Linked DNA regions of Homo sapiens. The protein of the gene in region 1 purifies or fractionates together with the protein of each later gene. This does not show direct contact. Each region holds a gene or a part of one and is shown on either strand. Other genes may lie near its edges.

Region 1 (3,500 bases):
GATCTCTTTATGTGGTACTGATTTCATTTCCTTTGGATATATACCCAGAAGAGGGATTGCTGGACCATATGGTAGTTTTATTTTTAATTTGAGTAACTTCTCTACTGTTTTCTATAATGGCTGTACCAATTTACATTCCAGCCAACAGTGTGCAAGGGTTCCCTTTTCTTCACACCTTCGCCAACACTTGTTATCTCTTGCCTTTTTGATAATGACAATTCTAATAGGTGTGAAGTGATATTTCATAGTGGTTTGTAATTTGCATTTCCTTGATGATTGGTGATGTTAAGCACCTTTTCATCTACTTATTGGCCATTTTGATGCCTTCTTTGGAAAGAAAGCCATTTGGTCTCTTGACTAATTTTTAATCAGTTATTTGGTTTTTTGCTATCGAGTTGGTGAGATCCTTATACATTTTAAATATATAGGACTTATGCGAATATTATTTCCCATTCTGCAGACTGTCTCTTCACTCTGTTGATTATCTCCCTTGCTATGCAGGAGCTTTCTAATATAGTCTCATTTGTTTATTTTTGCTTTTGTTGTTTGAGCTTTTGGTGTAATTTCCAAAAACTCATTGCCTAGACTAATGTCAAGTAGCTTTTCTCTTATGTTTTCCACTAGAAATTTTATGGTTTCAGGTATCGTGTTTAAGTCTTTAATCCATTTTAGTTGACTTTGGTATATTTGCTAAGATAAGCGTTCAATTTCATTCTTTTGCACGCAGATAGCCAATTTTCCCAAAGGCATTTAAAAAAAAACTTTCAGGTTCAGGGTTCATGTGCAAGTTTGTTGCATAGATAAATTGCGTGTTGTAGGGGTTTGATGTACAGATTATTTCCCCATGCAGGTAATAGGCATAGTACCTGATAGGTAGTTTTTCAATCCTCTCTCTGCTCCCACCGTCTACCACCAGGTAGGCCCTAGTGTTTGTGCCTACTTTGTGTCCCTTGTGTCCATATGTACTCAATGTTTAGCTCCCACTTATAAGTGAGAACATGTGGTATTTGGTTTTCTGTTCCTGTGTTAGTTCGCTTAGGTTATTGGCCTCCAGCTCCATATAAGTTGCTGCAAAGGACATAATCTCGTTATTTTTTATGCCTGTGTAGTATTCTACAGTGTGTATGTATCACAGTTTCTTTATCCAATCCAACATTGATGTGCATTTAGGTTGATTCCATGTCTTTGCTATTGCTAACACCATTAATTGAAGAGAGTGTCCTTTCTTAGATTTTGCCCAACTGAAATATAGACTGAATCAAGATCTGCATGGACATAAAGGTCTATTATTACAAAGTCCCATGAATGAATGCTTTTGGAACTTTCTAAGGGGGCAAAGCTTTGCTTCTTCCAAAAAATGATATAAGTAAACTTCTATGAAAATAAGAATTGGAACCACAGCTTCCTTTTGGCTTTGCTAAGCAGAAAACTTCAATAAATTGGTAAGTCATTTATAATGACCATTTCTGGTCAGGAGTTTTCATCCCTTTAAAAAAATATATCTTACCTGATCCTGTATTTTACAATTGTAGATGGGTTAGGTTTATGGCATCTTGAGATTTTTGTAGTATGTGGCTATGTATATCCGAGAAAAACTAAAAACTCTACTATGAAAATATTTTAAAGATAAACCGAAAACTATTAGGAAAAAGAAGACAGCAAACATACAGAAATCAAGACTGAGTTTTATTGCAACTGAGAATCAATATTCACTTTTTTATCTTTTGGGTATCCGAAGGCAAAATAGGAATATATGTAATATAAGCTGCTCTGTGACATCACATTCCAAGGAAGAAAGACCAAAGTCTTATTAGCACCCATAATTGAACTCAAATACTTGGCCAAAGTTTTGCCAACCAATAAAATTTTTCTTTGCGTGCTGAGGGATTTTTTTTGAGTGAGGGTGGTTAGAAAATTATGAATTTGCATTCATATGTTTCTTAGCTCCTAAAGACGCATTGTTGGATTTTAGTTTTGCTGCAGATATCCTCTGACATGCTCTGTTGACATTCACCCCAATTCTGCTCACTTCTGTTATGTCCTAGCTCTGTACTTGCTGATGCTACCTATAGCATAGAGTTACCATGAGAAAAATGTTTCAAACTCAAGACACGAATCTCTTGCTGCTTGAAGGAAAACATGTAAATTAGAAAAAGAGATAGTGAGTGCGAATGAAAGATTTGCTTACACTGATTATTCTTCCCAATTACTCCTGGAAGCTAAAGGTAAAAAAGGAAACCTAAAGTCTTTCTTTTTAATCAGACTTCCAATATAATTTCACAATTTAAATGTCCTATATTTGCTGGGTACTAGTCTCACCTATACCAAATTGAAAGTAAATTTGATGCAAAAGTGGGTAGTTAAAGAGCTAGATTTCAGAGTTATTCAAATTGTAGAATTTTTATAGCACAAAGTGCATTTATGAAAAATAATGCTATTGCAATTGGGTAAAGAAAGAAATTGAGTAGTTAAAAAGAACATAATTACTTAGAAGATCTCCCTCTCCTCTGAACATCTAAACTTGAACATAAATTTAAAACACTAAAAGGTATTCACTTACTTATCTTTATCTAATTCGTATCAAAATCATGCCTTACCTTGATAACACGGAGCTATTCTTTTACTCAGTTCTGTTCGTAAATCAGGGGGCACTCCATAGCAACCACCAGTGGGGAGCTTATTTTCATTCTTTATGTAAAATATATTTTTCCATCTATGCCCACAAGTCTGAATAAAATAAAAGTAGACCAAATGATGTGAAAGCTGCACCCAGGATAGCTGATTTCACGATGGATCTGTGGACCAGTTCCAATACCTACCACGATGGATCCATTTTCTCCTGGCTGTCTGGAAAGTGTGACCCCCAACCACTGATTGTCTCTCTCTTCCAAACAAGTCTTTCCACAAGGTTCTCCATTAGGGCTACCTATAGCATGTGAAAATAATTTTATCAGTTGTATTGAAAACATTCTACAAAAGAAGAGAAAACTGTGCACTCATCCCCAGTATTTTTCTGTTAACTACTTCTCTATCTTATATTCAGTGCACAATGTGAGGATAAATGTGAATTACTCTGTGCCAACTAATTATTCTCTAATACAAGGTGACTTTGGTTGTAGAAATGACCTCTGACTGGTAGCACCATAAAAAGATAGACTCAATCATATAAGAGATAGCTAACAGGACTAGGAGTGGGGAAAACCACTTAAAGCTAATACCAGGTTGTGCAACTATAACTGCTGTGTCTAACGTTTGGAAAAGAATTAGCCATTTATCTAACAACGTAAGCAATATTATCAGAGCACTTTTAAAAATGTTTCTTCTACTGAGATATTAAGAATAGAAAGACTATAATACATCCTCAGCAATTAAGGTACAATTTATTGGAGCTGGAAGGTGATGATTAAGCATGCAGAAAGTGGAACATACAATTAGCATACCAATAATGCCTTGCGTTTATAAGAAACTGCCCTATGTTTACATTTATTGGAATATGACTC
Region 2 (3,500 bases), on another chromosome or scaffold:
TGATTCTCCTGCCTCAGCCTCCTGAGTAGCTGGGACTATAGGTATGTGCCACCATGCCCGACTAATTTTTGTATTTTTAGTAGAGACGGAGTTTCACTATGTTGGCCAGGCTGGTCTTGAACTCCTGACCTCATGATCTGCCTGCCTCGACCTCCCAAAATGTTGGGATTACAGGTGTGAGCCACTGCGCTTGGCCACTTACCTGCTTTTTGTTACTGTAGATTAGTTTACATGTTAAGAACTTTACATAAACAAAAACCACATATAAATATAAATGCACTTTCTTTTCCATAGGCTTCTTTCATTCTGCATAATTTTGCATTCATGTTGGTGAGCTTTTAATTCTCTCTCGTGGTCTTTTTTTCTCTCATTTTGTATAAACTTTTTGAGCTTGGCCAACATGTTGAAACCCTGTCTCTACTAAAAATAAAAAATTAGCCAGGCATCTTTAATACCAGCTCCTAGGGAGGTTGAGGCAGGAGAATTGCTTGAACCTGGGAGGCAGATGTTGCAGTGAGCCGAGATCGTGTTACTGCACTCCAGCCTGGGCGACAGAATGAGACCCTGTCCCGGAAAAAAAAAAAAAAAGTTGCAAACATAGTACAAAGAGTTCTCGTATCACTTGCCTGCTTCTCCTGTTGTTAACATCTTACATAACCATAGAAAAATTATCAGAGATAGATGAACATTTCTGCAACAGTATTCACTAAACTATAGATCTTATTTTAATTTTTACCTGTTTTTTCCACCAGTGTCCTTTTTCTCTTCTAAAATTTTTATCTAGGATCATCCCATGATGCATTTAGCTATTTCTGTCTATTTGTTTGCCATCTGCAGTAGTCTCTGTCTTATCTTTTGTGACCTTGTCACTCTCAAAGAGTAATGATCAGTTATTTTGTATAATGTTCCTCAATTTGGGTTTGTGTGATGTTTTCTCTTGGTTAGACTTATTAGGTATTTTTGGCAAGAATACCACAGAAATGATACTGTCTTTCTCAGTGCCTCCTACCATGGGATTCATATTGTCAGTATGTCTTATTGGTGATATTGTCCTCCATCAATTGGTTATGGTTGTGTCTGTAGGGTTTCTCTAAAGTTACCTTTTTTTGGACAGTTAATATATATTTTAGGGGAGATACTTCAAGAAGATGCAAATCCTGTTTTTCCTCAAACTTTTGCCTGCTCATTTTCGCATCCATCTGTGGGTCTTGTCTGTAACAGTTATTATTGTACTTTTGCCTCATGGTAATTCTCCCTCGCTCTGTCACCCAGGCTGAATGCAGTGGCACGGGTACGATCATGGCTCACTGCAGCCTCGACCTCCTGGGTTCAAGTGATCCTCCCACCGTAGCCTTCCAAGTAGCTGGGACTATAGGCATGCACTACCATGCCTGACTAATTTTTTATTTTTTTGTAGAGACAGAGTCTCAATATGTTGTCCAGGCTGGTCTTGAACTCCTGCACACAAGCAGTCTACCTGCCTCAGCCTCCTGAGGTGCTGGGGTTATAGGCATGAGCCACTGTCCTGGGCCTGAGTATGTTCTTTTGTTTGTTTTATTTTTATTTTTTATTTTCATTTTTCTTTTTTTTTTTTTTGAGTACGTTCTTGAATGGAGAAGTTGAACTGTCTCGCACCTGCTAAATCAGTTTTCATTGCAGTTTATTTAATGCAAAGTATATTTCTGTAATTTCTTATATTCTTAGAGCAAAGCATATCTGATTTAAATTATGTTTTGGTCAGGCGTGGTGGTTCAAGCCTATAATCCCAGCACTTTGGGAGGCCGAGGTGAGCGGATCACCTGAGGTCAGGAGATCGAGACCAGCTTGGCCAATGTGGTGAAACCCTGTCTCTACTAAAAATACACAAAAAAAATTAGTGGGGCATGGTGGCGGGCACCTGTAATCCCAGCTACTCGGGAGGCTGAGGCAGGAGAATTACTTGAACCTGAGAGGCAGAGGTTGCAGTGAGCCGAGATCACACCACCGCACTCCAGCCTGGGTGATGGAGCGAGACTCCCCTTTTTTTCCTTCTTTTTTTTTTTTTTTTTTTTTTGAGATAGAGTCTTGCTTCATTGCCCAGGCTGGAGTGCAGTGGTGTGATCTCAGCTCACTGCAACCTCTGCCTCCTGGGTTCAAGCAATTCTCCTGCCTCAGCCTCCTGAGGGAGCTGGGATTACAGGTGCCCGCCACTACGCCCCACTAATTTTTTTGTGTATTTTTAGTAGAGACAGGGTTTCACCATGTTGGCCAAGCTGGTCTTGATCTCCTGACCTCAGATGATCCGCTCACCTTGGCCTCCCAAAGTACTGGGATTACAGGCTTGAGCCACCATGCCCAGCTGAGAATCCCTATGAAAAAGCAAGGCCAGACACTGTGTCTCATGCCTATAATCCCAGCACTTTGGGAGACTGACGCGAGCAGATCACTTGAGGTCAGGAGTTCGAGACCAGCCTGGCCAACATGGTGAAAACTTGTCTCTACTAAAAATACATAAAAAAAATTGGTGGGGCATGGTGGCGAGCACCTGTAATCCCAGCTGCTCAGGAGGCTGAGGTGCGAGAATCGCTTGAACCTGGGAGGCGGACATTGCAATGAACCAAGATTGCACCACTGCACTTCAGCCTGGGCGATAGAGCGAGACTCATTCTCAAAAAAAAAAAAAAAAAAAAAAAGATATTTTAAGTGATGTTTTAATAAGCTGCATCTGTTTTCAGTTCATTTATGTGTATAATTCAGTATTTGCCATACAGTAGACCCTTGGTATTTTTAGATTTTATATTTGTTTTAACTGTTTTGACTGATTCTTAAGGGCAGTCAAATTAATAGTTTATAATTTTGCTGAGATGTAAATTTGAATCACATGTGCTGTGGGGTTGGTTTTTCAATCACATCATTAGGTACACTGAGTTCTGTGAAGTTTTACCTTACTGCATTTCCTGGGCAGTTGAGCAGTCATTTTTATCTTTTTAAAATCTTTTAAAATTTATTTATTTATTTTTATTATTTTTTGAGATGGAGTCTTACTCTGTCGCCCAGGCTGGCATAATCTCGGCTCACTGCAACCTTCGACTGTCGGGTTCAAGCCATTCTTGTGCCTCAGCCTCCAGAGTAGCTGGGATTACAGGTGTGTGCCACCATACCCGGCTAATTTTTGTATTTTTTGTACAGACGGGGTTTCACCATGTTGGCTAGGATGGTCTCGAACTCCTGAGCTCAAGCAATCTGCCTGCTTCGGCCTCTGGGAAAGTGCTGTGGAATTATAGGTGTGAGTTACTGGGCCCAGCCTGAGCAGTCATTTTTTACTGGGGACATACATCAGAGTCACTTGTAAAGCCTTTTGAAGTACAGATCCCTATCTGTTGGCCCTTCAAATCAGAATCTGCAGGGATGGGTTTCAGCTCTCTACATTTTAAAAGTTTTTCCAGGTGATTCGGTTGTGCCTGCTTAAGAACGGCTACAAAAATTTTTGTGAGTTGGGGATTTGCAGAAATTGCAATATG
Region 3 (3,500 bases), on another chromosome or scaffold:
AAGCTCGGAATAGGGGAGGTTTTGCAAGCCAGTTCTTGCTACACACATCCCCGCGAGGAAGGTGCTGGCTACCCACGCTGTGGAAGGGAAAACTTGGCTCAGAGAGATGCAGTGACTTGCCCAAGGCCACACAGCCAGTGAGTGACCCAACTAGGTAAGAAACCAGAAACCAGTGACCACGACCAGTGCTCACTGCCCCAGGCCACAGCTGTGCCTCCGGGAATGCCCTCACCGCCTGCCCCTGAGGGTTAGGGAATCACTGTCACTTTTCCCGCTGTGGTCCCCCACACAGGCCCTGACCTGGTCCACTGAGACCTCCGGCTCCTCTGACTTCTCCTCCTACTCCTCCCCTCGCACACCAGCCAAGCCGTTTCCCGGGAAAGGCTCACACTGCCCACCTCCCTGTGCTGGTCCACACAAAGCCCCTGCCCAGAATGTCCTTCCCACCTTAGCTGTCCATATGTTCTCACCAACCTGGTCTCTGGCCCCCACACCCTCCAGGCTGCCCAGCCCTCCAAGCCTTTGATCCTGTCTGTATCTCCCTCTGGAATACGCTTCCAGCCCCATTTCACTCCCAACTTCTATTCATGCTTCAAAACCCTGCCCAGACAAGTCCTCCTCTCTGGCGGAGCTTCGTCGTCCTCTACCTGTAAAGAGCCCATGGTTCCCTCTCTCAGGTGACTACTTTGCCTGGACCACGAGCAGGCACTTGGTGAGTCTCCACCCCTTCAAGGGCTGTGGGTTCTGTGTGGGCCAGGCCGATGCCTGCTTATTCTCCACAGTCTCAGGCCTGTCACCCAGTGAATGCAGGTGGAAGGGAATTAAACCACCTCCTCCAGGAAGTCCTCAGAGAACGCTACTCAATGTTAGGCTGCAGAAGCGCTAACACTTCAGAGTAACACAAAAGACACCTCTCCTGAGAGGAGTCCCCCACACCCCCAAAAAGTGGGCAGCCCAGCCTTTTTAATACACTTTGCCTGTCCAGCCCTGGACAGAATTCCTGGTTACCTCTCAGTTCCTCAAACGGCCCTGTTCCCGCCTGTCTGGAAAGTGCCTGCAAACAGTGGCCCCTGACTTCCCACTCTCCTTCCTCTCTCCCTTCTCTTCCTCCCCACTGCCAGGCTGGCTGACTTTTACTCATCCCTCCAGCCCCTGCTCAATGTCACCTCCTCCAAGAAGCCTTTCCTGACTTCCAGCCATGTCGGGGCTACCACCCCACCTAAACCAGCACTCCTTGGGGAACTCAGCATCCCAGGTGGCAGGCACTAAGCCTCATTTGTTTGCCGCTGCACCCTGGGGCCAGCCCGCGGTCTGGTGCACAGCAGGTGCTGGCGTGCACCTACTCTGGGTACCACCTACACTGCTGTGGGATTTCAGGAAGAAGGCGCTGTCCAGGGAGACACAGTGAGGCATGATGGGAAAAGCCACACCTGTGTTGTTTTTCCAGTTTTGACCAGAAACACACTTTTGGGAAATGCTTGGACACTCTCTCCTCTAATGTCCAGCCACAGTGCTAGTGCCAAGAAGCCCCACAAGATTCACCTGTCTCCTCTGGGTCATCCCTGGAATCTCAGGGCCACGGTGATGGGGAAAGAGCTGGGACCTTGAGAAGCAACAGCCACCTTCTCTGAGGCCAGGCAGGGGGCTGAGGGTCTTTGTATGTTAGGTCTTGAAGTCTCATGTGATCCAAGACAAAAGGATCTTAAGTTACCCCCATTAGACAGATGAGGAAACTGAGGCCTGAAGAGGTCAAGGACCTTTCTTGTTGGGCGGGAACACAGAGTTCCTTGGGAAGCCAGGACATCCTGGCTGTGTGACCCTGGGTGAGTGACCTAACTTCTCTGAGCCTCAATCTCTTTAATGTGGAGGGGAAAATACCTATTTCTTGGAGCCATTAGGAGAATCCAAAAAAACAGAGGATGTTCAAGCCACCCCACTGGGAGATGCTGAGAAGCTAAGCAGTCTCATTTTCCATGTCCCCAAATGCCCCTGCCACAGGGCCCCTCCCCAGAGGACCAGAGGGACAGGTGCAGGAATGTGTCAATGGTGTGACACCCCTGAGGGTCCCCCTTACTTAAGAGACCCACAGGCAGCCAGGACCAGAGAGGAACCTTATGCACAGACCACCATGGGCAACCCTCACCCCATTTTCCGGATGAAGAAATTGAGGCTTACAGAGAGGAAGGGACTTGCCCAAGATCTCCCAGCCAGTGGGTGGCAGAGCAAGGCTAGATCCTGTTACCCAATTCAGAAAGGCCCACATGGTAAGCATCGCTGCTATTTCATGGCTGGAAATGGAGTTGGAGAGAGCAGAGACCATGTTTTCATCTAGTGCCTGTAGAACTCTGAGGCCTGGCCCTAGAATGGAGTGGAGGAGGGGAATGGGGCAGGTGGAAGGGGCCCCAGCACCCAGGTATCACCTGACCACCACCGAAGCCCACCCCCACGGAGGAAGGATGGTGCATTCAAGGAACCCAGAGACCACAGGGCACGCATGGCTAGTGACTTGGGGGTGAGAAAGGATTGATGTCATAGGGGCACGGACCAGTCAGGTCTTGGTTCTCAGGGCAATGGGGAACCAGCAAGGGGCCAAGCCAGGCAGAGGTGATGAGATCAGATTTGCATTTATAAAAGGTCCCAGCTGGGCACGGTGGCTCACGCCTGTAATCCCAGCACTTTGGGAGGCTGAGGCAGGTGGATCACCAGGTCAAGAGATCGAGACCATCCTGGCCAACATGGTGAAACCCTGTCTCTACCAAAAATACAAAACTTAGCTGGGTGTGGTGGTGCATGCCTGTAGTCCCAGCTACTTGGGAGGCTGAGGCAGCAGAATCGCTTGAACCCGGGAGGCAGAGGTTGCAGTGAGCCGAGATCGCACCACTGCACTCCAGCCTGGTGACACAGCGAGACTCCGTCAGGAAGGAAGGAAGGAAGGGAGGAAGGGAGGGAGGAAGGGAGGGAGGGAAGGAGGGAGGGAGGGAGGGACCCTCTTGGAGAAGTCTTAGGGAGGGGCCAGAGGGGAACAGAGGGGGAAACTGGCACATCAGCCAGGAGGGGAGGCCCTTACCGTGCTATTGGTTGAAAGATGAAGGCAGCTGGAGGTGTCACGGGGCAGGGAGAGGTGGAGCAGGAGGGAACAGAATACCCAACAGAAGGGGTGCCTGAGCTAAGGCAGAGGCTTGAGCCACTGGACATCATGAGGCACCCACACACACAGCGGCAGGAGCAGGGATGGGGCTGCCGAGAGGCCAGGCAGAACCTGGTGGGGCCTGGCGCACACAGCTAGGGAGGCTGATGTCATCCTGTCCACTGGAATCCCAGGCTGGATTCGCCAGTTTACCGAAGAGAGGATTTCAAATGAAAGTGAAAATTAAGTGCCAAATGATTCAACCTCAATTAGCAGCACACATTCTTCCATGCAGAGCTGAGCCCTGCCTTCCTCCCCGGGGTCGGGGAGGCAGTCATGACGGAGCAACAGGAATGGGCTCAGCTCTGTTCTA
Region 4 (3,500 bases), on another chromosome or scaffold:
TGGAGAAGCAAAGAAAAGCAGAAGCAGAGATGACTACTTATTTGAGAAAAAAAAAGACTTATTCTAGGTCCGTGTCAAACTTCATTGAATAAATTATCTTCGTTCCTCTCTTCACTATTACAATAAGAGAAGTGGTCCCTATTCATTAATACTAGATTAAATCATGAACATTTTAAGTGTGCATCAGAACTAGAAGAGGTTTATCCATCACCAAAAGTAAAACTGATCAATCTATTACCAAAACAAGATAATAATTTCAGAGCAAAGATACTAGTATATAGAAATTATTCACCTGTAGGATAAAACCTTACAAAATAAGTAGAGTATATTAGTCGAATTAAACGGAATTGCTAAAATTCGACTACTTTCACCTGCAAAAATATCAGTTTCATGTGGTTCAACTTCATATATCACAAGATAAGACAAAGAAAGCAATTCCATCATAACAGCCAACTTGTACACACAACACACACACACACACACACACACACACACATGCAAACACAGACAAATGGAAAAAACACTGGCAAAAGGAAGCATTCTTTTATCTAAAATATACCCAAGTTTATTTGCACTAGAATTGATAACCAATAATGAAAGATATTTCCATATCACAAACTAGTCCAATCCCAGACTACACAGAAAATGTCCTCTGTAATATGAAACTATATATTGTTTCTCTATATAGAGAAAGCAAACTAGATAATAAATGCCAAATTACCTGATAAGGAACGATTGACATTAGAGTTGGAATCTCCAACAGTAACTGCAGTAACTCCAAAGGACCCAGTCTTAGCTGAGGTCACTGGGATGAAGGTCCTGCTTTCCTTCGTGTGTGGGTAATGAGAGGTATAACCTTCCAGTAAAGTAGTTGAGCCTTCAGAATGATTTGGGTCTCTTCTTCCACCTGTGACATCATTCCTATCTGTGTGGAGGTGGAATCAGTGATGAACCCGTATTTGTAAGATCACCACCCACCATGTGCTTGTCTCCAGAACACACAATTGCTGCAAAAGCTTTCCACTTGTTATCCATAAATAGGGAGAAATAGAGTGAAGTTTGTCATACTATTGAACAGAATAAATATTTTGCAATAGACACTACTTGGACATCACTCAACAGAAGAGATTTTGGTGATCTTAATACCCAGAATTGGCATTTGTTGCAACATCTGCTTGGGTTATTAGGTAAGGCTATGTCACTACAACTGTGATCTTGAAGTCAGCTGAGGTACTAGATAATCTTGAGTTCTTTCTCAATTGGATTCATCTTTGATGTAGTGGAGGAAACATATCATTGGATTGAAAGATAAAATTTTGCTGCCTGCAATTAAAATAGCAAATGCATGGTTTCAAAGGCCTGAGGCTACTAATTTAATTATTCTTTTCTTTTCCAGAAGGGACTGCTTTTTAGTCATCAGCACCATGGAGGTCCAGAGGACAAAAGGCAAAACAATATTATTGTGAGGAATGTAAAGTGATATAATCAGACATTTACGCCAATTATAAATCACACTGCAAAAGAACTGAAATCATAGCAAACAGTCTATTGGACCACAGCGCAATCAAATTTGAAATCAAGACTAAGAAACTCACTCAAAACCATACAATTACATGGAAATTAAATAACCTGCTCCTGAATGACTTCTGGGTAAATAATGAAATTAATGCAGAAATCAAGAAGTTCTTTGAAACTAATAAGAACAAAGATACAACATATCAGAATCTCTGGGACACAGCTAAGGCAGTAGTAAGAGGGAAATTTATAGCACTAAATTTAAACGCCCACATAAAAAAGTTAGAAAGATCTCAAGTTAACAAAAATAAATAAATAAAATAAATCATATATAAGCAATCCATTATTGTTAAAACAAATCACTAACTCTAGAGTGAAAGAAACCCAACTTTTAAGATGAAGAAATGTAGTTTGCACTTAATGTACGAAGAGGTATATAAAACAGAAAAATCAGAGAACCACCACCAGACGCACCTTTTGATTAAAAGTAACAGTGTAACGGCAGCTAATGGATGCACCTCCACCAAAGACACTGCAAAAGTACCCATAATTGATTGATTCTTATCAATAGCTGAAGCCAACTAGGTTTTATAATCCTTACTGCTTGATGTCAGAGTAGAAGTTGTTGGATGGTCTTTATCTTCTTCCAAGCCTTCATGTGATGTAGAGAAGCTCTGAGAATTACTCTGCTCTGTTTCAATGAGGAATGAATCCAGTGTTAATTTGAAGCTACGGTACAAATCCTGTTATCTGCTAGCAAGGAAAATCTAGCTAGAGTAGAGTCAGATGGATAGGTGCATAGGAAGACCAAGGTTTGTGCACACAATTCTCCTCTGATTGATAGAAATATACAGAAGAATTCTATTTTGCCCCTATTTGGTTCTGAAGACCCTTTATTTCTCAGTATAATCATCAAAGGTAAAGTGGCAAGGTGAAGACTGAGCCAAAACTTTGCCTATCCTGGATTGTCCAGGCTCAATTGCAGCATTGCTCCCAGTCACTCCAGAAAACCAGAGAACACAGAGACATGGAAAAAAGAATATTTGAATCCCAATGCTCCTATCAGTAACCAAAAGCACCTAACTGTGTGTCAAGAAATGTGACGGCAGGGAAAATGAACACTATGATAGCCTGTAGTCTAGTTGTAACCACAAAAGAAAAAGAAGCCTATCTAGAATAGCCTACTCAAGTAACACAGATCAAATTTATACAAGGAAATACTTAGCTACCTTGTAAAGGTCATTAAATTAAAGTTACCATTTTACTCCATTATTAAGTTATTTCTTAATTTCACCTGTGCATTGGGATTTTCATCACTGCACCAAGGAAACGCTTGCCTGGGCAAACACAGGGCCCTCAGTGACATATATCAACTGGAGGTTGACCCATTGCCCATATCTAAAATCACTTGGACTGTTTCAAGTTTATTTCTTTTGTGTTCTTTTAAGAAAGGTACTGACCTGAGTTGCAGGTGCAAAAACTTCATAAAGCACACCCATAAGCCATGCCCACCACCGAATAAATATTACAACCAGGAGAAAGACAGTCACTAAATCCCAAACCCAATGTCAGAACAAAAGCCAACAGTGACATAAAACGGAAATATAAGTCCTTCTTTGGCAAGGACCATTCATAGGCTTATTTGCATCTCCTTTGATGCTTAACGCTGTGCTATTTACATTGCTGACCATCAATACATGCTTGCTGATTTTTTTCCTTTGCCTAAAGGGCTCATATGAAGGACTCTGCCCATTATGTGTGGCAAGCAGTAAAATGGGACCTTCTTAATTCTAGATTTCTTTTGTATTCCTCAAAGAAATTATGAACGACTTTAGGCTGATCTCTAGGACATCCCTGCACATAGAGTAGAAATTAAGGCTACTAGAATTTGAACATTTCTTAGTGATAGAAAGAGATACTAGCAATGTTTTGTTGTTGTTGTTGTTCCAGGGATCCCGCCACCTTTGTTGATTGTCAATAACATG
Region 5 (4,060 bases), on another chromosome or scaffold:
ACTTAAAACAGTTTACTAATTATTCAGGATAATCCACCTCAACCTTTCTTTGCAACAATGTCATGGCTAATCACTACTCTGCTTTAAGAATTCTAGGTGCTAGTACCAATAAAAGATACCACAGTTAAAATATGAGGATAGCTTTGGTCAAGTTTTATGAGACTTTAAGTATAATTTTCTAAACATTACACCAAGTGAAACAAGCCAGTCACAAAAGACTACATATTGCATGATTCCATTTCTATTCATGATTGTCTGAGGCTTGAGGGGAGGGAGGATGCCAGCAATGGGAATGACCAGTAAAGGGTATGGATATCTTTTTGGAGTGACAAAAATGTTCTAAAATTAAATTGTAGTGACGGTCACACAACGCTGTGAATGTACTAAAATCCACTAAACTGTACATTTAAAATTGGTGAAGTTTACGGTATGTGAATTATATACCAAAGTCGTTAAAGAAAAAAAATCCACTAAAGAACAAATGAAATAGAGAATCCTCTTAACACGGAGGCATAGCCTATCTTCTGAAGTAATACATAAAGGATTTTACATCAATAAATAACTTTCTAAATGGTAGCCCAGTGGTCAAGAAATGAGAATGAATTTTATTTTTTGGAAAAAGTGCTGATGATTTAAGTTTAACAGAAAATTTACATCATTCCTTCCCAATGGGCTTGCTCTTTACAAAAACAAAAAACTAGACACACCCCTAATAGCTTAAGGAGGTAAGGTCTCTAAAATGTTAGTTCACTAGAACCAGGTTTTTATCTACTGCAGTTCAGTCAGTTTACCAAAACAAGGAAATCAAAGATAACATTATTTTAAAAAGGCAATTAGATGGATTTCCAGATAACGGCACAAATGAAAAGAGGACAGAAAAAAGATGTGTAGTCCAATCCAATTAGTAAAGCTATTTGTTATATCATATATAACTTTACAGGACAGTCTGGACTATCTCTTCAAAGGGTCACTCAAACCTACTGTTTCAAGGTAAGATTTTCGTAAACTTTTCCTTGGCAATCTTGAGAAAGCATCACTGAACATCTTCAATAATAATAAGTTTTTGTTTTTAGAGCTGGAAAAGTAGGTAACAATATTCTTATAAAGTTTTACATGAATTATCAGAAATTCTTACTCTCAGGCCTTTCTCCTCCCTTTTGTACTGTCTTCAATGAAAATTACGGATCCAGTTCTCAGGACCCTCATCCGAATCACACCACCACCACGTGACTGGGTTTACAATTTGTTTTTATGTTTAGTAGGCTTATTCCCTTGTTTAAAATACGATTACAGTGTACTATACTCCTACACTAAAGAAAAAACATGCCTAGCTACCAAAAGAAAATAAACCATAACCGTATTTTGAAGTATTTTACTTCTAGAGCCTTAATGCCATCGGAAAAAAAAACTGCACAAAATACAACTCTTGGAAGATTTAACATCGAAAGCTCAATTTCAATACACACACATCTACCATCACTGGGTTGTTTTAACTGTTTCCCAAAAGTAAAACTTAAAAACAAATTCTAACATATATACGCCAAACTACGCAAAACAATTGCTACATCACCCACCCCCACCCCGAAAGTTCAAAAAGCAACAATTATAGTTCACTGGGCCCAGACGACCTACTTGAAACATGCCCATTTCACATTCCTATTTGATAAATCACCCACTTTTCTGCTCACAAAATCATCCCCGAAGTCCTTATTAACGTTTAAACATGAAAAAAAAAAAACCCTTTGGAAAATCAGTACGTACTCTTTTCGAAGTTCCAAATCTGGAATATAAGGGCCGGCTAAGCGTCCTTTATTCCTCCCAGGAGACTTTCCGTTTATCTAGCTGCCCTAGAGACCAGAAAGCTAGGGAGAGTACGCCCCTTCCCCCTCCCGTCAGCAGCCAAGCCTGGCTTAAAACCCTTCGCCACCGGGCGGCAGAATTACAAAGGAGGCCGTCTGCCTCCTTTGTCCTGGATTTGGGAGTTGAGCACCTTCGTCGCCATTGGCTTTCCTCCCCCAGCTCCAGCCTCTCTCATCTTGGGAATCTGCGTCAGAAGTCACTCGCAGTCCCGTCAGCCCAGGTAGCCCTGCCGAGACTGCGGAGGAAGGGAGGCCGCGGTGGGAGGCCAGGCCCATCCGGCGCCATTTCCATCGGGAGCGCGCCCGGCAAACCCGATCCTCCCTCCACCCAACTGCCCGGCCTTTCCCTGCTCGCTTCACTACCCACCCTCATCCCTTCCAGGGAGCTTTGACCACCCCCTCCCCTGGCCTTCTAGATCAGTTTTCGGAAGCTGGGGAACAAAAAAGTAAAAAGAGCGGGGAAGGGCGGGAAGCCGAGGTGGCCGCGCCACTGTACCCAAAATGGCGGAGGCCAAGCCAGCAGGGAAAGGGGAAAATGCTGGATGTCCCCTACTTCGGGCCTCGGCGTCGTCCACTGAATTCCACCTGAGCAAGTCCTCCCATCGGCAAGCCGCCCTCCCTGAAGTGGGAGATGGTCGGGGAGGCGCAGCCCCGCCGCTTCCAAGCGGCGGCCTCCGAGCGGCGACCACCCCACTACCCCCCAACCCAGCCCCTCCCGGCCTTTCGTCCTTCTCCCGACTCCGCTCTCGAAACCACCAGCCCAACCTACCCCCTTTTACTTCAGATACCCTGTCAGGCGATAGTTACGCCGACTCTGGTGCTCGCGGGGTCCAGTTCAAAGAAGGGAGAAGTCGTTTGCCTCGTGTAGCGCTCGCCACAACGGTTCTCCCAACCGTCTCCAGCGGTGACAACCGCTTAGGGAGCTGCGCAGCACAGCTACTGGCTTGGGGGGATGGGAGGGAACGAGCAAGAAGTGGGGGGCGGAGCGAGAACTGCGAAGGCGGCCGGCCCCACTCTCGCGAGACGGGAAAGTCGGTTTCGCATGGCGCTGGCGGCACGCAGCGCGCCTGCGCGGTGGTGGGTTGCGCAGCTGTTGGGGGCGAGGTAGACCGAGCAGAGGCTGTTCCAGTTAAAGAGCTGCAGCGCGCACCGTTTTTCTTGCTTACGTTAGAACCATCCAGTTTTCAGAGCGTACCATTCTGCCGCCTCGGGGCGATGGCAATGGCAGTTCTGCCAGTGTGTAGAAGGAACCGTGCCGTAGCGCTCTGGAGAAGTTCTCCGGTGATCTGCCCCCACCGTGAACAAATTCTGTGAGGGCCCCGCCCTGGCTAGGCATCGACGGCGCGGAAAGGGCCCCACGTGGTTCGACCGGCAAACGCGGGGCGGATTTTCTGGTCCACCATGTTTGCATTGTGCGGTGAAAAATAGGAGTGTTTCTGGGCCGCGAAGATGAAAGCGTCCACTGGGGCCGATTTCGGCTCTCGGGCTGGGTGTCCGCCTCCTTCCCCTGGCCCAGAGTTGCTGGCCGCCCGCCAGCGCGCTTCGTCCCAATGTGCCGCGCGGGATCCGGGTTTCTTGGGTGTATTCATGTCCACCACGTTACCGTTCTCTCTGCAAATCCTTCCTCTTTTTCTCCTCTGGCCTTCGCGTTTTCATCTCTCCCGCCGTCAGTGCCTCGGAGACTGATTAGCCTGTGGAGGCCGACGTTGGGTTTTTTTTATAGTTTTGCGTTGTTGAAAATTGCGCTTCCAAGTGACACCTAATAAATAAGTACATTTTGGTTTTGCTGTCATGTCACCAAGGTTCCTAATGACACATTATGGCTTTTTTTTTAAGTTCCAAAAAAGGCTGGCCGCGGTGGCTTACGCCTTTGAGAGGCCGAGGGGGAGGATCGCTTGAGCGTAAGAGTTGGAGACCAGCCTGGGCAACATAGTGAGGTGCTGTCTCTACAAAAAATACAAAGATTAGCTGGGCGTGATGGCAGCGCACGGGAGTAGATGGGACTCCCGAGTAGTCCCAGCTACACAGGAGGCTGGGCAAAAGGATGGCTTGTGCCCTGGAAGTTGAGGCTGCAGTGAGCCGTGATTGCGCCAGTGCACTCCAGTCTGGGAGACCGAGGGAGACTCTTGTCTCAAACACAAAGAAAAACCCCGAATTTCTGCGCAGAGGGTTAAGGGGAAGCCTGGTAAAGAGATCAGTGC
Region 6 (3,500 bases), on another chromosome or scaffold:
ACCATTTCCTTCAAGTTCTGCAGGCTCCCACTGTATCAGAAAAGCCTAGGTTAAGACTTGGCCAGCCTTCTCCACCCTCACTGAAACCCAGCCAGATGTCCAACCACAGAATCTTGGTAGCACAGAACATGTTAGAAAGATCTTTCCTAGGTCTTTAAGTTGCTCCTACAAAGACCTGCTAAGGAAAACATCTTCTAAATTTTGCCTATAGCATAAAACCTAAACCATATGGATTCTTTTTGCAACAAATTATTTTTTATTATAAACTGGTAATTTATAATTTGGGTTACAAAGTTATGTAATCCAATACATACAGTTTGGATACAATGTGGAATAATTAAATCAGGTTAGTTAACATATCCATGACTTCAAATACTTAACATTTTTGTGGTGAGAACATTTGAAATTTACTCTTAGCGATGTTTTTTTCTTTTTTCTTCCTTTTTTTTTTGAGGCAGAGTTTCGTTCTTGTTGCCAAGGCTGGAGTGCAATGGTCAGATCTCAGCTCACTGCAACCTCCGCCTCCCAGGTTCAAGCAATTCTCCTGCCTCAGCCTCCCAAGTAGCTGGGATTATAGGTACCCGCCACCACCCCCGGCTAATTTTTTTGTATTTTTAGTAGAGATGGGATTTCACCATGTTGGCCAGGCTGGTCTCGAACTCCTGACCTCAGGTGATCCACCTGCCTCAGCCTCCCGAAGTGCTGGATTACAGGCATGTGCCACTGCGCCCGGACAATTTTTTTTTCTTAAGACAGGATCTCGCTCTGTTGCCTAGACTGGAGTGCAGTGGTGTGATCATGGCTCACTGCAACTTCAATCTCCTGGACTCAAGTGATCTTTGTCTCAGCCTCCCATGTAGCCAGAACTACAGGTGCATGCCACCATGCCCAGCTAATTTTTTTTTTTTTTTTTTCACTTTTTGGAGAGACAGGGTCTAAGTTGCTCAGGCTGGTCTCAAATTTCGAGGCTCAGGCAATCCTCCCACGTTGGCCTCCCAAAGTGCTGGGAGCCACCATACCTCGCCATCTTAGCAATTTTGAAATGTCTAATACTCTCTTATTAACTGTATTTGCCATCCTATGCACATACTAATTCTTTACTGCAACTTCCTATGACCTGAGTCCTTTCATAAGAATCTGTGTAGTATCCCATGTAGCACCTAGGTTTGTTAGGACATTTAGTTACTCTTTTCAGGAGAGAAAGGTCACTGCCCATGAAGCCCTTTTTTGGGGGAAGGGGCACACCCACTCACCAATGGTACAGATGATGCCAGTGTTCCGGGCTGTGATGGGTGGTGAATCAATGTCCAGGCGGCACATGTGCTCCAGGAATGTGTCAGCCATGGCTGCGTGCAGCTGCTGGGTCTGAATGAAGGCAGTCCCGGCTTCACTATGGGGCTTCGACATGGCTGCTGAGGTCCTGGGTCGAGACAAATTGAAAGAGAGTGGTAAGACTGAGAAGTGGTTAATATACCATTTAGCACAGAAGGCTGTCTCCTGCTTACACATTAACTCAATAAGCACGCTTTGTACACAAGCCACAGGGAAGCCAGACATGATCTGGTTATGTGGGTGCTCCTCATGTTAGAAAAAGGGTTCACCAGATTGTGAACAATGGAAAGGACCTTACTGAACAAGTTAAAACCTCCCACCCACTCCACATAGTCCCAAGCACCCACAGTAAGCAGGTCTCTCTTACACTGGGCTGACTGACATCTACCTAGACAGCTTTCTCACCACCCTATCTATAAATAACATCATTTAACATGCACTGAAGGAGCTTCCAATGAAGGAAGTTGTAACCAATCTTCCAGTGATACAAACAACTGACTCCTAGCTTAGTGCCTTGATAAGCCTAGATCTCTGCATGTCAAGCTGTCACAAAGCTACAAATAGCTGCTTTGTCGTGGGGCACCCATATTGCCTCTTTACAATCCTCACCCAAACCCAAAGTCATTCCCCTGAATGCAAAAGCTTCCATCCCAGGAGTCTAAACCTAAAACCACATCTACTGTTGGCCAGAAGGATGTCAGGACACGCAAAGCAATTTGCAATTTGCAAAGCAAGGATAACATAAGGGCACTGGTATAATTCTGAAATTATCACAACTACATTAACAGGATAGTTGCAAACATAGAGAAATTAAAGTTGCTGGTCAAATCTTTTCCCCAAATGATTTTTGATACACATCCTGATTTCTTTTCTAAGCCTGACAAGTATACCACCACTCTGTAACACAGACCATCAGTTCCAGGTAATTAACTAGCCCAGGTCACAACCCTGACAATGGCCCCAACCTTTGCTTTCTTCATTAATGACTTACAACTAAACTCACTCAGCCTGTTAGTTAGCTGATTAGAGACAAAAACTCAGGAGAAGCTTCCAGGCAGTGTTTGAATAACTATCAGGTAAGGATGTGAACCAGACCAGGCAGTGTTTGAAGAACTATCAGGTAAGGATGTGAACCAGAAGCTTGCTACACGTCTCATCAGAAAGCTGTTTCCTTGAGTTCTCAGACCAAGGGCTACTCTTTCTAAAACGCTTGAGCCTAAATGCTTCGGCCAAGCAAGGCTCAGGAACAAGCTCCTCTTTAGCCCTTCCCCACCTCATCCTAAATCTCAAAGTTCCAAATCAAGGCATCTCACACATATGACCCTTACTCCTTTACCCTGTTCCATCTCTGACTTTGTGGGCTCTCTGGGTGGCTCGAGTAGAGTATACATCTAAATCCATCTCTGCCATCTCCAAAGAAGGCCCGCTGAGGTCCAAGGAGCTCTGAAGGCAGTAGTGAACAGTCTGTTGGCTATGGAAAACTGATGGCCACAAGTCCTCAACCACAGATTCTAAAACTTTTAAAATGGGGAAATAAGATACCGGCTAACGGTTCAACATGGCAAATGCACTCTTCATTTCGATGTGTATTTCCTAAGCCCCTAATATCTACTACGTACCAAAATGAAAAAATCAATCCTCCCTTCCAGGACCTATATGGTTTTGTATCTCCTAGCACCTAGTATGTGGAAGCATTCCAGTGTTTGTTAAATGACCTTTCAGTCTCTCTGAATGCCTCTTTGTCAGAATCAAAGTTATGCCTCTGCTCCCCCTTCCCTAAATCTGAGGAACTTCTGCATTACTGACAGGAAAGCCTGGGGCCCCTGGTCCCTTTCCCTACACTCATGGTTGAGGGAGGGCTCGCATACCTTCAGAGCTCCCAGCTGGGCTTAGGGAAGTCTGGCTGTTAAGGGAACATTACTGAGAGATGGCACATCAGGCCAACTGGAACACAAAGGCTTTGCTGTGGCCTCCAATGGGCCTACAATCTAGGGACTGTATTGTGAACAAAATAAGATCTGAATAAGTGGGTTGGAGTAACTAATTCCACTCTTTTTAAAAACCATCAGCTGGCTCTTCTTAGACCTGAGATATGAGGGTCTTCCTGTAAAGACCTGGCTGGGGCCACTGAATATCAGGTCATACCTTTGGTTCTCTGGGGTTGGGCT
Region 7 (2,367 bases), on another chromosome or scaffold:
GGCTGGCTTCCAGTAGGCGTGGTAGCCGGCTGCGGCTGGTGGGCATGGAGCTGTGTGGCATGGTGTGGGTAGGACTGGTGAACAGTGGCTGCAGCAGGAAAGAGGGAGAACCAGTGCTGAGCACACCAGAGGGGGCTGGCACACAGCCCAGAGCAGAGGGACCAGGCGCAGGACTCACCATAAAGGGCTTGGGGGGTAGGCTGCTCTGCAGAAGGGTACTGAGGGGTAGAGGATGACACGATGGCCTGGGGATGGCTGCCCGACGTCAGCATGCGTGGGTTGCTCTGAAGCATGGGGGCAAACACCGGCTGGCGGGACAGAGAGAGGAGTGGTTGGCACAGCCGCCAGCTGGGAAGGTGTCCTCCTGCCAGTCACTGCGTGCACAGCACCGCTTGGGCCTCCTCACAATCACCCTATTGATTCAACATTCATAACGATCCCACCCAGCAGACACTATTTTCTCTACACTTCAGAGATACAGATGTCCAATGCCTTGTTACAGGTACCACCAGAGCCAGGGCTCAAGCCCAAGTCTGACACCGCCAATACCACAGAGGGCCGATCCCACCTACAACACTGCCTGCCACCCCTAGCCAGCTCCCAAGTCTCTGGAGAAGATGGGATCCCTAGCAGGGGCCCTGGATCCTCACTGCCCTCCTGGGCCGCAGTCACCTGTGAGGGGTAGTGGGCCATGGGCTGCATCATGGCTGGCTGGCCTGGGAACTGCTGAGGGTTGTAGGGGATGTAGGAAGAATAGGGCGTGGCAGCCACCAGAGGCGGGCCAGCAGCCGCGGCGGCCTGCATCATCGGCGGGGCTGAGGCTGGCTGGTGTTGGTCCGAGCGCTGCGGAGGAAGGGAGCCTGGAAGAGGAGGAGGAGAGGAGAGCTCAAGCTCCACCTGCCAGTAGGCCCTTGGCAGCCTCGCCGCCTGCCCCTCCCAGCCCTGCTCACCTTTTGCTCCCCGGTACTTGCCCTGCTGCCCAGGCACTGAATTGGATACAGGATATGGATACATCTGAGGTGCCTGGGGATGAGGACACAGATGAGGCTGAATGACTCGCTCACGAATGCCCAGACAGGCCTGACCTGGTCCCTCAACCAGCGCAACCAAATCCCACCCCGCTAACCCTGGGCCCGGCCAGTCTCTCTGCATACCTGCACAGCTGGTCCCATGTGGATCTGAGGTATGTAGGAGATGTACTGGGGGCTGTATAGCCCACTCTGGCCTGCTGTCAGCACCGGGATGGAGGGAGTTGAATGAGTCCGGGGCCCCGGAGAAGTTGGGGTACTGGTGGATTTATTCTGCAAAAACAAGGGAGGACAATTTTATTTTGTATTTTCCCCTCTACTCCTGGCCATGCCTAGAGTGGTAATAATTAACATTCGTGAAATGCTGCATACCAAACATATTCTGCACTTATCTTGATAAAGCCTCACATTAAACCCTATGAGGAGATGAGTATTCTAAAGTTACAGGTGAGGCAGAGAATGTAAGTGACGTCCAAGATCACAAACCTTCCAAATACAGGGGCTCAAGCCAAGTCAGCTGGCCTCTGTTCATGACTACCCCACTCCAATACTCCCTCAGCCAAATGCCAAGAACCAAAGAAAAGCCTGTTAACCCCTCATCAGACTCACTGGGATCCCTGATCCCCTGATCACCCAAACCTAGAGACCTGAGTCCATTTTCCCCAAGCCAGCCCCAAAGGTGCCATCCTTACATTTTTATGACATCTCCTCACACTGCCTGCCAGGCAAGTGGTCCTGGAAGTGAAGTGTTCCTCCCCCTATTCATCTATAAGCACTGCCCAAGTCTCCCCACAGAAACCAAAGTCCACATTCTCCTGTCCCAGCTCACCACAGACAGCAGAGGCTTTGTAGGATTGAACTCCTTAGCATTAGGGTTCAACGTTGATTTCTTTACTTGTCTGTGAGAGAAAGTACAGTAAATCTTCACGGCTTGCTCTCATCCCTCCTGCCATCCTCCCAGAGCCCCACCCCGCTCCACTCACTCAGCAACAGGGCCCTCATCTTTGTCTTCTCCCTTGATGAGGCCCACCGGGGGGCTGCCAGTTTGGCTTGGACAAGGTGGTGGGGGCTGCTCTGGCCCCTCAGTGCCTCCTGATGGTGCCAGGGGTGGTTTGTCCTCCTTATCCGATACGGACTCTGTCTTGGAGGAGACGGGAGACCCCATGGGCTCTGAAGTCAACAGACCATCAACCTCTTTCTCCTTTCCTTTGGGCTCCTCCTTTAAGATCCGGGGAGGAAAAGGATCCAGGCTGTTCTCAGGGGAGCTACTGGGCTGAAGCTGGAAGAGAGAAACACACACAGTCCAGTCTGACCCAGACCCTAGTCCTGGCTTTCTTCT

Evidence for each region.
Region 2: the proteins of ITGA4 (region 1) and DRG1 purify together in Homo sapiens (affinity purification with mass spectrometry, with the first as the bait; one study listed by BioGRID). This does not show direct contact.
Region 3: the proteins of ITGA4 (region 1) and RAC2 purify together in Homo sapiens (affinity purification with mass spectrometry, with the first as the bait; one study listed by BioGRID). This does not show direct contact.
Region 4: the proteins of ITGA4 (region 1) and CD44 purify together in Homo sapiens (co-immunoprecipitation; one study listed by IntAct). This does not show direct contact.
Region 5: the proteins of ITGA4 (region 1) and HNRNPH3 purify together in Homo sapiens (affinity purification with mass spectrometry, with the first as the bait; one study listed by BioGRID). This does not show direct contact.
Region 6: the proteins of ITGA4 (region 1) and PKM purify together in Homo sapiens (affinity purification with mass spectrometry, with the first as the bait; one large-scale study listed by BioGRID). This does not show direct contact.
Region 7: the proteins of ITGA4 (region 1) and ATXN2L purify together in Homo sapiens (affinity purification with mass spectrometry, with the first as the bait; one study listed by BioGRID). This does not show direct contact.

The regions. Positions count from the first base shown.
Region 1 is NC_000002.12:181,474,386-181,477,885, reverse strand, and holds part of ITGA4 (integrin alpha-4 isoform 1 preproprotein), read right to left. Parts: intron 2,927-3,500; coding exon 2,820-2,926; intron 2,728-2,819; coding exon 2,598-2,727; intron 2,067-2,597; coding exon of another isoform or gene 2,035-2,066; exon of another isoform or gene 1,666-2,034; intron 1-1,665. UniProt on the Homo sapiens protein: Integrins alpha-4/beta-1 (VLA-4) and alpha-4/beta-7 are receptors for fibronectin. They recognize one or more domains within the alternatively spliced CS-1 and CS-5 regions of fibronectin. They are also receptors for VCAM1.
Region 2 is NC_000022.11:31,406,104-31,409,603, forward strand, and holds part of DRG1 (developmentally-regulated GTP-binding protein 1), read left to right. Parts: intron 1-3,500. UniProt on the Homo sapiens protein: Catalyzes the conversion of GTP to GDP through hydrolysis of the gamma-phosphate bond in GTP. Appears to have an intrinsic GTPase activity that is stimulated by ZC3H15/DFRP1 binding likely by increasing the affinity for the potassium ions.
Region 3 is NC_000022.11:37,234,270-37,237,769, forward strand, and holds part of RAC2 (ras-related C3 botulinum toxin substrate 2), read right to left. Parts: intron 1-3,500. UniProt on the Homo sapiens protein: Plasma membrane-associated small GTPase which cycles between an active GTP-bound and inactive GDP-bound state.
Region 4 is NC_000011.10:35,208,671-35,212,170, reverse strand, and holds part of CD44 (CD44 antigen isoform 1 precursor), read right to left. Parts: intron 2,554-3,500; exon of another isoform or gene 2,207-2,553; coding exon 2,117-2,206; exon of another isoform or gene 1,397-2,116; intron 926-1,396; coding exon 722-925; intron 1-721. UniProt on the Homo sapiens protein: Cell-surface receptor that plays a role in cell-cell interactions, cell adhesion and migration, helping them to sense and respond to changes in the tissue microenvironment.
Region 5 is NC_000010.11:68,330,804-68,334,863, reverse strand, and holds the start of HNRNPH3 (heterogeneous nuclear ribonucleoprotein H3), read right to left. Parts: upstream 2,801-4,060; 5' UTR 2,648-2,800; exon of another isoform or gene 2,629-2,647; intron 2,081-2,628; exon of another isoform or gene 1,762-2,080; intron 1-1,761.
Region 6 is NC_000015.10:72,217,691-72,221,190, forward strand, and holds part of PKM (pyruvate kinase PKM), read right to left. Parts: coding exon of another isoform or gene 3,478-3,500; intron 1,421-3,477; coding exon of another isoform or gene 1,408-1,420; coding exon 1,254-1,407; intron 1-1,253. UniProt on the Homo sapiens protein: Catalyzes the final rate-limiting step of glycolysis by mediating the transfer of a phosphoryl group from phosphoenolpyruvate (PEP) to ADP, generating ATP.
Region 7 is NC_000016.10:28,832,999-28,835,365, reverse strand, and holds part of ATXN2L (ataxin-2-like protein), read right to left. Parts: intron 2,308-2,367; coding exon 2,012-2,307; intron 1,928-2,011; coding exon 1,858-1,927; intron 1,302-1,857; coding exon 1,155-1,301; intron 1,024-1,154; coding exon 951-1,023; intron 861-950; coding exon 673-860; intron 309-672; coding exon 179-308; intron 89-178; coding exon 1-88. UniProt on the Homo sapiens protein: Involved in the regulation of stress granule and P-body formation.